Homo sapiens: one gene and its partner. The protein of the gene in region 1 interacts with the protein of each later gene in a pairwise test. Each region holds a gene or a part of one and is shown on either strand. Other genes may lie near its edges.

Region 1 (7,036 bases):
GCCAAGGGTGAGGAAGTAGAGGCAGGGAGAAGGGATACATGGCCCTTATCATGTCTGTGTTTTGGAGTAGGGGAAATGTAAGTGTCAGTTCTTCACAAATACAACAAGGGAGATGAAGATGCTGAGCCCTGGACAATCCTTTCTTTGCTGCAGATGAGGTTCCTGGAAATTCTTTACCATCCACTCTCCCTTCCACTAAATTTCAGAAAGAGTGCATCCAGGTCCCTAGCTGTGTGCTGAGTAACACTTGCACGTGGCCATTGCTGGACCATTCGGCAATAACGTCTCCTCTTGTCAGCTCTTCTAGCCCCTTCTCGCGCTTTCTGCTTTTCCTTTTGATGATGGGGAGGTGGCAAAACACAGTTCATTTCTCTCTTTGGCAAAGTGTGAATGGCATGGCTTGTGGCACCTTCTCTCTTGGTTTAGAGAACAGGCTTTGGAGTTAGAGTGGCTTTGCCTCTCCTTTAGCCTTACACGGTTGTTCTGAGGATTAGGTAGCTTGATACTTGTAAAACATATAGAACAAGGACTGGCACATAGCATGTACTTAGTTAATGTTAGCCATTATTATTACCTATTTTTGCAGATATAGAAGGCTGTCAAAGATATATTGCTAAAGGGACAAAAAGCAAGATACAAAACTATGTATTAAAACAGCTTGATTTTGTGCAAAGCAAATGTCTGAGGATATGTGGTGGTTACATCTGAGGAACAGGACTGGGGTTTAGGGGAGAAGGCTAGGCAAGTGGCTTTTACTTTATTATCTAATATTTTTGTAGTAATTGATTTTTTATTATAAAAAGTATACTTTTATAGTAATGAAATTACAAGGAATAGTTTAGAAAGTCCATACTTTCCATCATGTCATTTTTTTAAAAAGGCATGATGATTTCAACATAACCTCTTTTCATATTTTTTCATCCTTAAATTCGGAAGTATCATCCAAAAACTTCTCCTGGGGGTAAAGAAACATGTATCTAAAACCCAGCAATTCCCCAGATTTTCATTTCTTTGCTGTGCCATAGTCAAATAAAAGTTTTTAAAATTACATGCTATTTTAATTCCACAGTTACAAAATTATTCTAGTTATTCTTTCATCTCTCCATATACATATATAGAGTTGTCTGGAATGCTGTTCACCCACCAGATATAAACAACGCATTTGGCTTCATTGTTGCTGACTTCATTGCAAAGCATTGCTTAAATTTTTATAATAAGCATTTTTATAAAAACAATGAAATCATTGCTTAAAATTGGAGATGAGAAGTGTTAGTTCACTTTTCTGTTTAGAAGTAAACATGGCCGGGTGTGGTGGCTCACGCCTGTAATCCCAGCTCTTTGGGAGGCCGAGGCAGGTGGATCACGAGGTCAAAAGATGGAGACCATCACAGCCAACATGGTGAAACCCTGTCTCTACTAAAAATACAAAAATTAGCTGGGCATGGTGGCACACGCCTGTAGTCCCAGCTACTCAGGAGGCTGAGGCAGGAGAATCGCTTGAACCCGGGAGGCAGAGGTTGCAGTGAGATCTTGCCACTGCACTCCAGCCTGGCGACACAGCGAGACTCCATCTGAAAAAAAAAAAAAAAAAAAAAAAAAAAGGAGGAAACACAGTACCCAGCATCTAATCTTTCCCAGACATTTAGGATGCTGAACTTCTTCAGGATTATGAAGGTCAGTAGCTGTTGTGCAGTATCTGTTGCTCATGAAAGAGGTGAGAAGTAGACTATGTGGCTACCGAATCGGGATGACAAAAATATTTTAAATGATGACCGCATATTAACATACAGTCTACCATCCTTTCCTCTTGTTTTTTATTTATTTTTTTTCTTAGCAGGTAGAGGCTCTTTATGTTTAATTAAGGATTTTGATTAATTGAATTGGTATTTTTCAATAGTGTATGTAACTGGTTGAGAATCATTAATATTGTACAGTGTTAGAGCATAGTAGCTTTGATCGTCATTTAAATACAACTGTTTCCTTGCCCAGCAATTATACACCACTATCATGAATCAGATAAGAACACAAATCTGGAAAGAACTTGCAGTCCCCTGGTAAATACTTCATGAAGGCAATGGGAGCTTGCCAATTAGACAATCATCTCTGCATAAGATATATTTCCAACGAGTAACTGCATTATACAGTCCTTAGCACATTATGCCCCTCGGGATATGATGATAATTGACTGTGTCACAGAAGAAACAATTTTGAAGAAACTGGGACTAAGCTGATTATCAACTGAATCTTTAGAACGGGGTTAGCAAATGATGGCCCAAGGGCCAAATCTGGCCCGCTGCCTAATTTTGTCCAGTGTATGAGCTAAGAATGGTTTTCAAGTTTTAAGTGACTGGGGAAAAAAATCAAAAGTAGAATAACATTTCTGACATGTAAAAATTATATGAAATTCAGATTTCCTGTCCCTGAAGTTGTATCAGAACATAGCAGATTCATTCATTTATACATTGTCTGCAGCTGCTTTTGCACCACAGTATCAGAGTTGAGTAGTTGTGACACAGAAGATAAGAGAAGAAAATACTGACTATCTGACTCTTTATAGAAAAAGTTTGCTGACCCCTCCTTTAGACTCAGGTACAAGTTATTTGTGTGCATGTCTGCTTATGAATGGATAATGCTTTTGTGTTAGAAATACATCTGGCCAGTTGATGTGGCCATCAAAGGAGGTGCAATACTTCATATTCTTCTATTTTCCTCACTCCCTTCTCAAAGTCAAAAGAAAGCTATTGAGTGAGAAAAATTAAGAGTATTGGAAGGGACCATAAGAAAAATCATGGTAACAGAAAAGACCTACACATTACCTCCGAAGCTTGTAAATTACTAACTCTAATTTTAAGCCCTAAAATCAGATTAGCTCTCTACTTTTTAAAATTTGAAATTATTTATTCTCTGTGTCTGAGAAATATTTTGAGAGGCAAGAGCATTTGTTCTTGTGACTCTTACAAGATACAGTGGCTGGCCGGGCACGGTGGCTCACGCCTGTAATCCCAGCACTTTAGGAGGCCGAGGCAGATGGATCACGAGGTCAGGAGTTCAAGACCAGCCTGGCCAAGATGATGAAACCCCATCTCTACTAAAAATACAAAAATTAGCTGGGCATGGTGGCAGATGCCTGTAATCCCAGCTACTCAGAAGGCTGAGGCAGAGAATTGCTTGAAGCTGGGAGGCGGAGGTTGCAGTGAGCCGAGATCGCACCACTGCACTCCAGCCTGAGTGACAGAGCAAGACTCCATCTCAAAAAAAAAAAAAAAAAAAAAAATTAAATACAGTAGCACACCAGATGGAGTCTCTTTGTTCAGTGCTATCACCATATTGAATGGTGCTCTTTGGTGTATGCTTGCATTCAGTTGTAGATACGATATAATGCATGATTGGATAATAGGAAATACCTTTTAGTAGAATGTATGATTCTTGATAGGATATCCTGCCCATTGGCTTTGACAGTTGAATTAACCTATTTGGCTGACATTGACCCTCCTACTGACCACGATATATAAGAAAATATGAAATTAATATAAAAGCTATCTTGTACTGGTAGCAAGATAGCTACTGGTAGGAAACATTAACAATAGCATCGTAAAATATAGAATTGAAAATGTGAGTCATTTTGCTTTTAAATCTCTATCATGTACATGACTGACTTCAGTTGTTCTCTCTCCTCCCTTTTGTTCTGTTTCAGAGGTTGAAGGCTGCATTGACTCACCACCCTGCTGCCATGTCAAATGGGAACATGAACACCATGGGACACATGATGGAGATGATGGGCTCCCGGCAGGACCAGACGCCACACCATCACATGCACTCGCACCCGCATCAGCACCAGACACTGCCACCCCATCACCCTTACCCACACCAGCACCAGCACCCAGCACACCATCCTCACCCTCAACCCCATCACCAGCAGAACCATCCACATCACCACTCCCATTCCCACCTTCATGCACACCCAGCACATCACCAGACCTCGCCACATCCGCCCCTGCACACCGGCAACCAAGCACAGGTAGACCTTTTCCGTGATCTCTTTCCCCTTCTTATTCTCCTTCTTAACAGTGCAAGCTCTAATGCTGGGGTCATTTGCAGCAATCTTGTTTGACAAGCCCAGGTGTTCTATCTCACATTCTAGGGGCTCTGTTTATCTCCTAGGAGGCAAGCCTTACCCATAAGACCCTACCAGATCATAATTTCTATAAATAATACACTAAAAAATATCAGGTCTAGTCTCTAAGGGCAAGCATAAACTTTAAGTTCTCCAAAATCTATTTTTGCAGTGTGTCAGAAAGTTAGCCCCTCTCAAAAGTAATATGAATCAATGGATTAGGAAGAACTTAAGCTTGTGAAGAAAGATGTGAATTAAGAATGAGAAAAACGAGTTAATTCTAACCCTGGTTCTAGCTGCTATGTTTTAAAACATCATAGAGACTCAATTTTGTCACCTGTAAAATGGAAGTTAAATACAACAGGCAATCTTCTGAGTAACAGTGAATGTTAAAAATCTAAAGAGTAACAATTCAAGGCAGACAAAGAAGCTCCATCATGGATGCTAGGGCGTAAGGTGCTGTGTAAATGGTGAAGAGAGGTGACTCATCCCCCTGAATGAGAAATGCGTTGGAGGGAACAGAAAGAGAGCCAAGTTCTGTAGATGATCAGACCAAGAGAAAGGCCAAATCCCAGTGGGTGAGAGTCACCAGGAGTGGCTGCAAAGAAAGCCAGCATTTAGACAAAACTGAAAGAGGGTTGGGGGACCAGGCAGACATTATGTCACCCACGGCCAAGAAGAGAGGCGAGTCCTGTACTGGAGTGAGTTTTAGTAAGTGGATGAAGGGCATGTCCAGGAGCATGGCTGGGCCTAGACACTTTGGATCCTCAAGCAGAATGACTTTCATCCATACCTTCCACCCAGTCCACACTGCCAGCTTCCAACCAGCTGAATCAGAAGGGTGTCGGAAGCATGGAACCGCCAAAAAACACTTATTCACTGTCTCCTCTGTCATCTGCCTCTGGAGACGTGACTTTATACCCGGCAGCTTTTTGAACTCTTGAGCCCCCCTCCATTAACATGCACCAAACCTGGACAGCCATCCACAGAATGGGTCAGGCACAAGCAACTCTCGAAGCTATTCATTAGATAAACTGTCTTTTGCAAGGTTCTTAGAGGTGTTCTACATTGTGAATAAGAATTGAGCATTAGAATGAGATAACCTTAATTTTTTTCCTGCCTTCCTCACTGTGTGATTGTGAACAGAAACAACCTCTCTACCCCTCAGTTTTCCCATCTGTAAAATGGGGCTGGGTAATAGTAGACTAAACTCCTAGGCTCTTATGAGTATTAAATAAGAGAATCTCTGTAAAGCCCTTGACACAGTGTTCAAAATATGTTATTCCAAACCAGTAGAAGTTTAGCAAATTGTATAGCAATCAAATGCTATCCAGAGAACATTTTTAGTCACATTTTTAGTCAAACGCCATACTAGAACATGTATTTAGAAAGAAAAAAAAAAACTACAAAGTCAATGATGGGCAAATTGATTCACATTTGTACTTAGTTTATAAGGAAACGAGAACATCAAGGTTTGGTTGCCTTTATGGGCAAGTTATTTCACAGAGCAAGTTATATAACAATTCTTTGAATATAAAAGCCATTCACTAGCTAATTACCAATTAGCCAATTGCCCTCTGTTTCAAGTCAGTAAGTGGCCAATAGTATATGCAATTAGTTAATTGCTATTATAATTAGCTTTATGAACAGTTGCTTTTTTTAATTGTATGCTAAAAAGAAAGAGCCCAGGTTGGTCTTGCTAAAATTTGAACCAGATCATTTAGGCAGTATCCCAAAATACCACTCTTAAATTGTATTAACTTGGCTGATTACTGAGATCTTGCCATTTTGCTTAATTGTATGATTATCTGAAAGTAGGAATAGAATCCTTTGAACTCTGAGATTCTAAGGTGATTTGGAATAAAATCTGCCTTTTTGAAATTATAATTTATTACTTTTGATCAAAATTTTCAGAGCATCTATGCCAAGAGAATTCTGCTTTAAAAATAAAATTACAAGCGACAATAATTACCAGGTATACAAATTCTGGTTTTAGGGTTGTATTTGCATTTTCTCCTGGCTTCTTGTGCTCCTCCTGCATGTAAGGATGTGATTGTAGAGTGCTGGTTTCAAGGAATTTCTCTTAATCAATCCTGAACCTAATTACACCTGAAACCACGTCACTTATGCCTTTGGGTGAAGGCACAGGAAAAGTATCATGGGTTACAGGTTGATTAAACTTAGGGTAGGAGGATACAGAATTGAAAGATAAGTCCCTGCAATGGAGATTAAAAATCAATTTTTTCCTATTTGAGGGTTTTGTCTGGGGCTGGCAATAAGAGATTATAATTCACAAAAGGAAACAGTTAAAGGCAAAAATATCCGAGCAGTTAGCACATTCCCTCTTAATGCTTTTCTTTGCAGTAGTTAGCTCAGGAATTAGCATCTGGAATGACAAGTGCTAAGCCCCTGCCAATAACAAGGATGACGCCTTCACTAGCAACTCTGATGAGTAAGACCTTAGACAGTTAATTTATTTTGTTATTCCTCTATAATCGGGAGGAAAAGAGTCACCAACAAACAAACAGTTCTAGAAAATGTCTTTGCTGGCCTGGTGCGGTGGCTCACGCCTGTAATCTCAGCACTTTGGGAGGCTGAGGCGGGTGGATCACGAGGTCAGGAGTTCAAGACCTGCCTGGCCAAGATGGTGAAACCCTGTGTCTACTAAAAAACTACAAAAATTAGCCAGGCATGGTGGCAGGCACCTGTAATCCCAGCTACTTGGGAGGCTGAGGCAGGAGAATCGCTTGAACCTGGGCAGCAAAGGTTGCAGTGAACCGAAATCGCGCCACTGCACTCCAGGCTGGGCGACAGAGAGAGACTCCGTCTCAAGAAAAAAAGAAAATGTCTTTGCTTTGCATAAAATTACTAAGATGCAGTTCAACCTCAACCCTGGGCCTGATTCTTTTACAGTTAGTCATA
Region 2 (7,036 bases), on another chromosome or scaffold:
GCATCGAATTTTCCACCGTCACAACACCTACTGTTATGGTCCTCCACTCACCTCCGGAGTACCTTGAGCTTATCACGAATACAGCAATTGTTGGAATGTATTTAATTGTCTGTTGACAAATAAAGGTCCCTTTTGCATTTATTTTTGAATACATAGTGCCTATGAGAGGGCCTGGCATGTAATAGGAATCGATAAGTATTTGTTAAAAAAAGAAAATAACAATTATCTTCCACCTCTAGGTTTTCTTTTTCTGTATTTAACTAGAGACGGGGGCTGGGTGCAGTGGCTTACGCCTGTAATCCTAGCACTTTGGGAGGCCAAGGTGGATGGATTGTTTGAGCCCAGGAGTTCGAGACCAGCCTGAGCAACATGGCAAGACACTGTCTCTAGAAAAAACACAAAAATTAGCTGGGCATGGTGGCGGGTGCCTGTAGTCCCAGCTACTCAGGAGGCTAAGGTGGAAGGATCTCCTGAGCCCAGGAGGTCAAGGCTGCAGTGAGCTGTGATTGCACCACTGCACTCCAGCCTGGGTGACAGAGTGAGACCCTGTCTCAGGAAAAAAAAAAAAAAAAAAATAGAGATGGGCCTTCACTTTGCTGCCCAGGCTGGTCTTGAACTCCTGGCCTCAAGTGATTTTCCTGCCTTGGCCTCCCAAAGGGCTGGGATTACAGGCATGAGCCACTGCACCAGGCCGACCATCTCTGGGATTTAGTAGTTGCCATTCTGTCTGCCTGCAATTCTCTTCTCCCAGAGGCATGCATGGTTTGCTTCCTGCCTTTCTCAATGAAATCTAAGACATCTCTCAAGTTTTATCTCCATCCTGCCTATCTCCCTGTCCTGCACCTCTGCCTTATTTTTGCTCTTGGCTTATGGTCGTTAGTACCTGTCTTCCCTAACAGAATGTGAGCTCCATGAGGGCAGGGACTCTGTCTCACTCCCTGCTGTTCCCCAGACCTGAAAGAGCACACGGCACATAGCAGGCCCCCCTGTAAGCATTCCCTGGGTGGATACATGCATGGTATTATTATTGTTTATATTATCCTCTCATTTTATCTAAATCAGGAAATTGAGGCTGGAGATGCTAAGTCACTTACGCTAAGTAGTATCAGGAGTTGAGCCCAGGACCTTAGCAACTGCCTTGCTGCTTCTGCTCCAGTGCTTCAGGAAAGGTATGGGACTTTTAGAGGTGTCTGTACTATCTATTACAGGATAATCTGGGTGATTGGAATGGATCCAAAGTCCTTGTGTTTCTTAGAGAAGATCCTGCTTACAGATTTTTTTTTCTTTTTTTTGCTATAGGTTCTTGCTCTGTCACCCAGGCTAGAGTGCAGTGGTGTGATCATGGCTCACTGAAACATTGACCTCCCAGGCTAAAGTGATCCCCCCATCTCAGCCTCTTGAGTAGCTGGGACTACAGGCACACACCACTACATCTGGCTAATTTTTGTATAATTATTTTTGTTTTAGAAATAGGGTCTTGCTATGTTGCCCAGGCTGGTCTCAAATTCCTGGACTCAAGAGATCCTCCTGCCTTGGCCTCCCAAAGTGTTGTTGAGATTACAGATGTGAGCCACCGTGTCCGGCTGAGATTGCTCCATTCTAAACGCTTCTCTACACTTCCCCAAATCTTAATTTTCAGATCAGGTTCTTTGTATTATCTCTCTGGAAAGTCAGGTTGTCACTGTTTCTTCCAATACCACATTCCTTCCCCTCCCTTTGGTCTGGTAGAAAGTGCAATGGCGGCCGGGCATGGTGGCTCACGCCTGTAATCCCAGCACTTTGGGAGGCAGAGACGGGCAGATCACCTAAGGTCAGGAGTTCGAGACCACCCTGACCAATATGGAGAAACTCTGTCTCTACTAAAAATACAAAATTAGCTGGGTGTGGTGGCACATGCCTGTAATCCCAGTCACTCGGGAAGCTGAAGCAGGAGAATCTCTTGAACCAGGGAGGCGGAGGTTGTGGTGAGTCCAGATCGCGCCATTGCACTCCAGCCTGGCAGCAACGAGAGCAAAACTCCGTCTCAAAAAAAAGAAAGTGCAATGTCATTGTAGGGAGACACCTCAAGTGAGTTTCCAACTCTGTCCTCACTAGTGGGGTCACATTGAGCAAGTGCTTAACTTCTCAAAGCATCTGTTTCCTTCTCAGAAAAATGCAGAAAATTGCCATTTACCTCAATGGCTCTCAACCCACACTAAGCATCAGAATTACTGGTGGTGGGAGAAGGAATTAGAATGTTGGGTGCAGGCATCTGTGGTTTTAAGAGCTGCCCAGGTGATTCTAATGGGCAACCAGGGGCCTTTCTCAAGGAGATAATTAAATCAGATAAATTAAGAAAACATACTCTGAGACCTGTAAAGCTCTCTGTATGGTAAATTACTTTCATTATTCAACACCAGAGAAAGGCCAGAAGTTGAACCTCAGTTCCTGCCCTCGCAGAGGCAAGATGGCGCTGGAGGCCTGCTGCTGAGTCTCTCACCTCCCAGAAGCCATTCCCAGCTCCACAGCCTGCCTCCCACACGAACACCCGCCTCTTCTGCATGCGGACACAGCCTTGACATCCACGCCTTTTCACATATGGGCAGGTAGGACATTAACACTAAATAGTGCTTTATATAAAACACACAAAAAGACATATCCACAGCACAAGGCTGGAGCAGAAAGCCTTCAGGACCGAGACACATCTTCGTGTCCTACTAAAAACCTTCCCCTCAGTATGTCCTAGGGTGTGGGTGTCCCAGGGTTTCTCAGTGGAAGGTCACTCTCAGGCTCTCGCGGTTGTTAGGGGAATTGCCTCTGGACATCTATCTTGTCGTGTTTGCTTGGGGGCGACATGTGGGGGTGAAGGACCTCAGGCTGCCTCAACAGAGTGAATCCTGGGCTCTAGAAAAGCCCCCGCCCCACAACATTTCTCTCACTTGCTAGAGAATTCTAGAGTGCATAACTTATTTTATTTTTCTGTTCCTTGATAATGAATAAGAGGCAAATGATTCATGCCGAGTTAAAACATAAGGAGGTATAAATAATAGCAGATCCTTTCTTGAACATGCAGGGACTGAGTGGGAGTGGAAATGGGGACCTTGGAGCAGGAATTGAAGGATATGAAGAGGAAGGTGGGGAGCTTCCAGGGAGCAAACCATGAAGGGAGGCTGGGCGCGGTGGCTCACACCTGTAATCCCAGCACTTTGGGAGGCCAGGGTGGGCGGATCACTTGAGATCAGGCATTCAGGACCAGCCTGGCCAACATGGTGAAACCCTGTCTCTACTAAAAATGCAAAAATTAGCTAGGTGTGGTGGCAGCCACCTATAATCCCAGCTACTCAGGAGGCTGAGGCAGGAGAACCACTTGAACCCAGGAGGTGGAGGCTGCGATGAGCTGAGATCATGCCACTGCACTCCAACCTGGGCAACAGAGTGAGACTCCATCTCAAGAACAACAATAACAAAATATGGACCGAGCGCCATGGCTCACGCTTATTATCCCAGCACTTTGGAAGGGCGAGGCAGGTGGATCACTTGAGGTCAGGAGTTCAAGACCAGCCTGGTCAACATGGTGAAACCCCCTCTCTACTAAAAATAGAAAAATTAGCCAGGCGTGGTGGCACACGCCTGTAGTCCCAGTTACTCAGGAGCCTGAGGCAGGCAAATCGCTTGAACCCAGGAGGCAGAGGTTATAGTAAGCCAAGATCGTGCCACCGCACTCTAGCCAACAGAGTGAGACTCTGTCTCAAAAAAAAAAAAAAAATCACCCAGGAAGGGAGACAAGAGGCACCAAGAAAGTCCCTTATGGTGTCACAATTTGCTTGTGTTATCAAGAAAAGTCTCAGGTAGCTTTTGAAGGCTCCTCCTCTCTGCTGTAAATCTTTATATGATAACTTCTTTTGACCAGCAGTTCATAGCCACTGTTGTGAGGAAGGTCCACGTGATTTGTCACTAATAAAAGTTACCTGTACAAAGCTTATGAGTGATTCATTTAAAGATTATTTACAACCGGTTCAAAATATGCCTCCTTGAGTGAGATGGTAAAGGATGAGATGGACTGGTCATGGTGACTCACACCTGTAATCCCAGCACTTTGGGAGCCCAAGGCAGAGGATTGCTTGAAGCCAGGAGTTCAAGACCAGCCTAGGCAACATTCTGAGACCTCATCTCTATGTTCCCAGCAACTCTGGAGGCTGAGGTGGGAGGATCACTTGAGCCCAGGAGGCGGAGGCTTCAGTGAGCCATGTTCGTGCTACTGAACTTGAGCCTGGGCAATAGAGGGAGACCTTGTCCCAAAACAAAAACAAAACACAACAAAAAAAAGATTGAGATGACAGCTCTGGCGCTGGGGCTGGGGCTGGAACTATGCAAACCCCGGAGCCTATTTTGAATCCCAGAAGTCTTTACCTCTGCACTCCTTAGTCTCCTTTTCATAATAGGTTCCTGCTGGACACTCCTCCAAGCACAGTCCATCATAGAGGACCCAGGAACTCTCAAGACAGAGCTCGCAGTCGTCGGCTTTGGGGCCACTGCACTCCAGACAGTCTTTATGGCAGGGGACACAGTGGCGCGAGTCTGCATAGAAGCCACGGGGACAGGACTGGTGGCACATATCATCGTGCAGGAAGAACTCAGGCGTGCACTCTGGGAAAAGGAGGAAGCAGCAAGTTATCCCCGGGGGGTAGGAGAAAGGAATTCATTGTCTGCAGTAGGCTAGCTCCTCCCTCAGCACTTTGGTTGATTTGACCTGAGAGTATGCTTGCCCTTTACCCACCCTGCCAGGGCATAGACTTGATGTCTAACAAGCCCTGCCTTGGGACAAGGAGGCCACACATGGTGACCGTATTAGATGGTGCTGGACTTACACAATGAAATGGTCTGCCCTTTGGAGGTGCAGTGCAAAAATTTGCAATGCTGCAAAAGACAGGGATGGCTGAGAGGCTGGCGGTATTGTTTGAAAAACCCGAAGAGCATTAACAGATTTAAAAAATTGTATTGAGAACCTCACACTGTTTTCAACACAGAAAGCAGTTTAGGAATGGTTGGATTAGTTAACTTTTCATTCATTGATCAGGTACAACAATGAATACAGGATTGATCAGTGTGAAGAATACATTGCGGGTTTATTTTTTTTGTGTTCATTTTCTTACTTTGGGGGGAATCCTGGGAAACACTTGAGGTCACACCAAGAGAATACTTTGGATAGGACAGCACCAGTTAAATGAGTCTGTCTTATTCTGGAGAGAAAATTGAACAGCTTTTTGGGGGAGATAATTCCTGAGGGAAAAAAACAACAAAATTCATTCACAGCCAGAGTGGTCATCTCAGTCATAGTTGCCCGAACTTTTCTTTCCTATCCTTTTTAACAACTGCAGTTTTCTAGCTACCTCTGTGTTTTGTGGCTTACTATCAGTCTGTAAGATTTTGTGTTCCAAAAGATGGGAACAGCTGGGCGTGGTGCCTCACGCTTGTAATCCCAGCACTTTGGGAGGCTGAGGACGGTGGATCACCTGAGGTCAGGAGTTTGAGACCAGCCTGACCAACATGGAGAAACCTCGTCTCTACTAAAAATGTTAAAATTAGCCCGGCGTGGTGGAGCGTGCCTGTAATCCCAGCTACTCTGGAGGCTGAGGCAGGAGAATCGCTTAAACATGGGAGGCAGAAGTTGCAGTGAGCTGAGATTGAGCCATTGCACTCCAGCCTGGGCAACAAGAGTGAAACTCCATCTCAAGGAAAAAAAAAAGATGAGAACATTGGGTTCTTCTCTGTACCTCTAGCACCTAGGATAGCACTTGCACATCTGCTGTGTGTGTACATATGGGGGTGAGTGTAAGAGATCATGCAAAAAGGGGCTCTTGCTTGTCTTAACTTGCAGCATCCATAATGAAAAGGGTGTATCTCACCCTCAGTTTCTCTGATGACAGGCACAGAGACATACCTTTCAGGAATGGTAGGGAGACTGGTTCCCACAGCTCTTTGCCATCCACCCTCAGATAATCGGCCCCCAACTGGTGGCTCAGCAGAGCCTTGCTCTCCTGTGGGAAGCTCCTAGGTACCTTTGCATGTTTTCTCATGGATGCAGTCCTGACACATCTCTGGGCAATGCTTGCATACCCCCTTCACAGCCACGTGCCTCTCGGGGCAGTTTTCCTGGCACACTCCGTGGTGCAGGACGTGGCCTCCTTCACAAGAATGGCAGTTGGTGGCGTTTCCTTCACATGTTCTGCAAGGAGAGCTACAGCGTTCACATATGCCGTCTTCTGCATAAGAGCCCCTGTGGAAGGAAGACAGAGTGCAACTGGAGAAGCTGACCTGCTGGAGAAGTGACTCATTCCTGGGGAAAAGGAATTAGGTCTAAAAACAAAAGGGCTGCTGCTGTCGTCAGCTGAGAGGCATCCATGGGATTTATAAGGAAGTGAAAAGAACATTCAGAAAAATGGAAGGAAAAGGACAAGCATTATTCTTGTGAAAGGAAAATAAATCTTGGGACCCCAGTATTACTAAGCCAAAGGGAAAAATCAAGCTGGGAACTGCTTAGGGTAAACCTGCCTCCCACGCTATTCCTTAAAAAGATAGCTAACTGGCCGGGTGTGGTGGCTCACGCTTGTAATCCCAGCACTTTGGGAGGCCGAGGTGGGCAGGTCATCAGGTCAGGAGATCGAGACCATTCTGGCCAACATGGTGAAACACTGTCTCTACTAAAAAATACAAAAATTAGCTGGGTGTGGTGGTGCACGCCTATAGTCTCAGCTACTCGGGAGGCTGAGACAGGAGAATCACTTGAACTCGGGAGGCAGAGGCTGCAGTGAGCCGAGATCATGCCACTGCACTCCAACCTGGTGACAGAGTGAGACTCTGTCTTAAAAAAAAAAAAACAAAACCAAAAACCAGATAGTTACTAAGATTTTAAAAAGCTACAATGGGTTGGGTAGGGTGGCTCATGCCTGTAATCCCAGCACTCTGGGAGGCTGAGGTGGGTGGATCACCTGAGATCAGGAGTTTGAGACTGGCTTGGCCAGCATGGCAAAACCCAGTCTCTACTAAAAATATAAAA

What was found. Proteins that work in one complex are often made in the same cells at the same time.
Region 2: the proteins of CREB5 (region 1) and PCSK5 interact in binary tests that used the Homo sapiens proteins (3 or more experiments, as listed by UniProt).

Annotation. Positions count from the first base shown.
Region 1 is NC_000007.14:28,800,505-28,807,540, forward strand, and holds part of CREB5 (cyclic AMP-responsive element-binding protein 5), read left to right. Parts: intron 1-3,694; coding exon 3,695-4,018; intron 4,019-7,036. UniProt on the Homo sapiens protein: Binds to the cAMP response element and activates transcription.
Region 2 is NC_000009.12:76,320,642-76,327,677, reverse strand, and holds part of PCSK5 (proprotein convertase subtilisin/kexin type 5 isoform 3 precursor), read right to left. Parts: intron 6,257-7,036; coding exon 6,039-6,256; intron 4,627-6,038; coding exon 4,390-4,626; intron 142-4,389; exon of another isoform or gene 1-141. UniProt on the Homo sapiens protein: Serine endoprotease that processes various proproteins by cleavage at paired basic amino acids, recognizing the RXXX[KR]R consensus motif. Likely functions in the constitutive and regulated secretory pathways.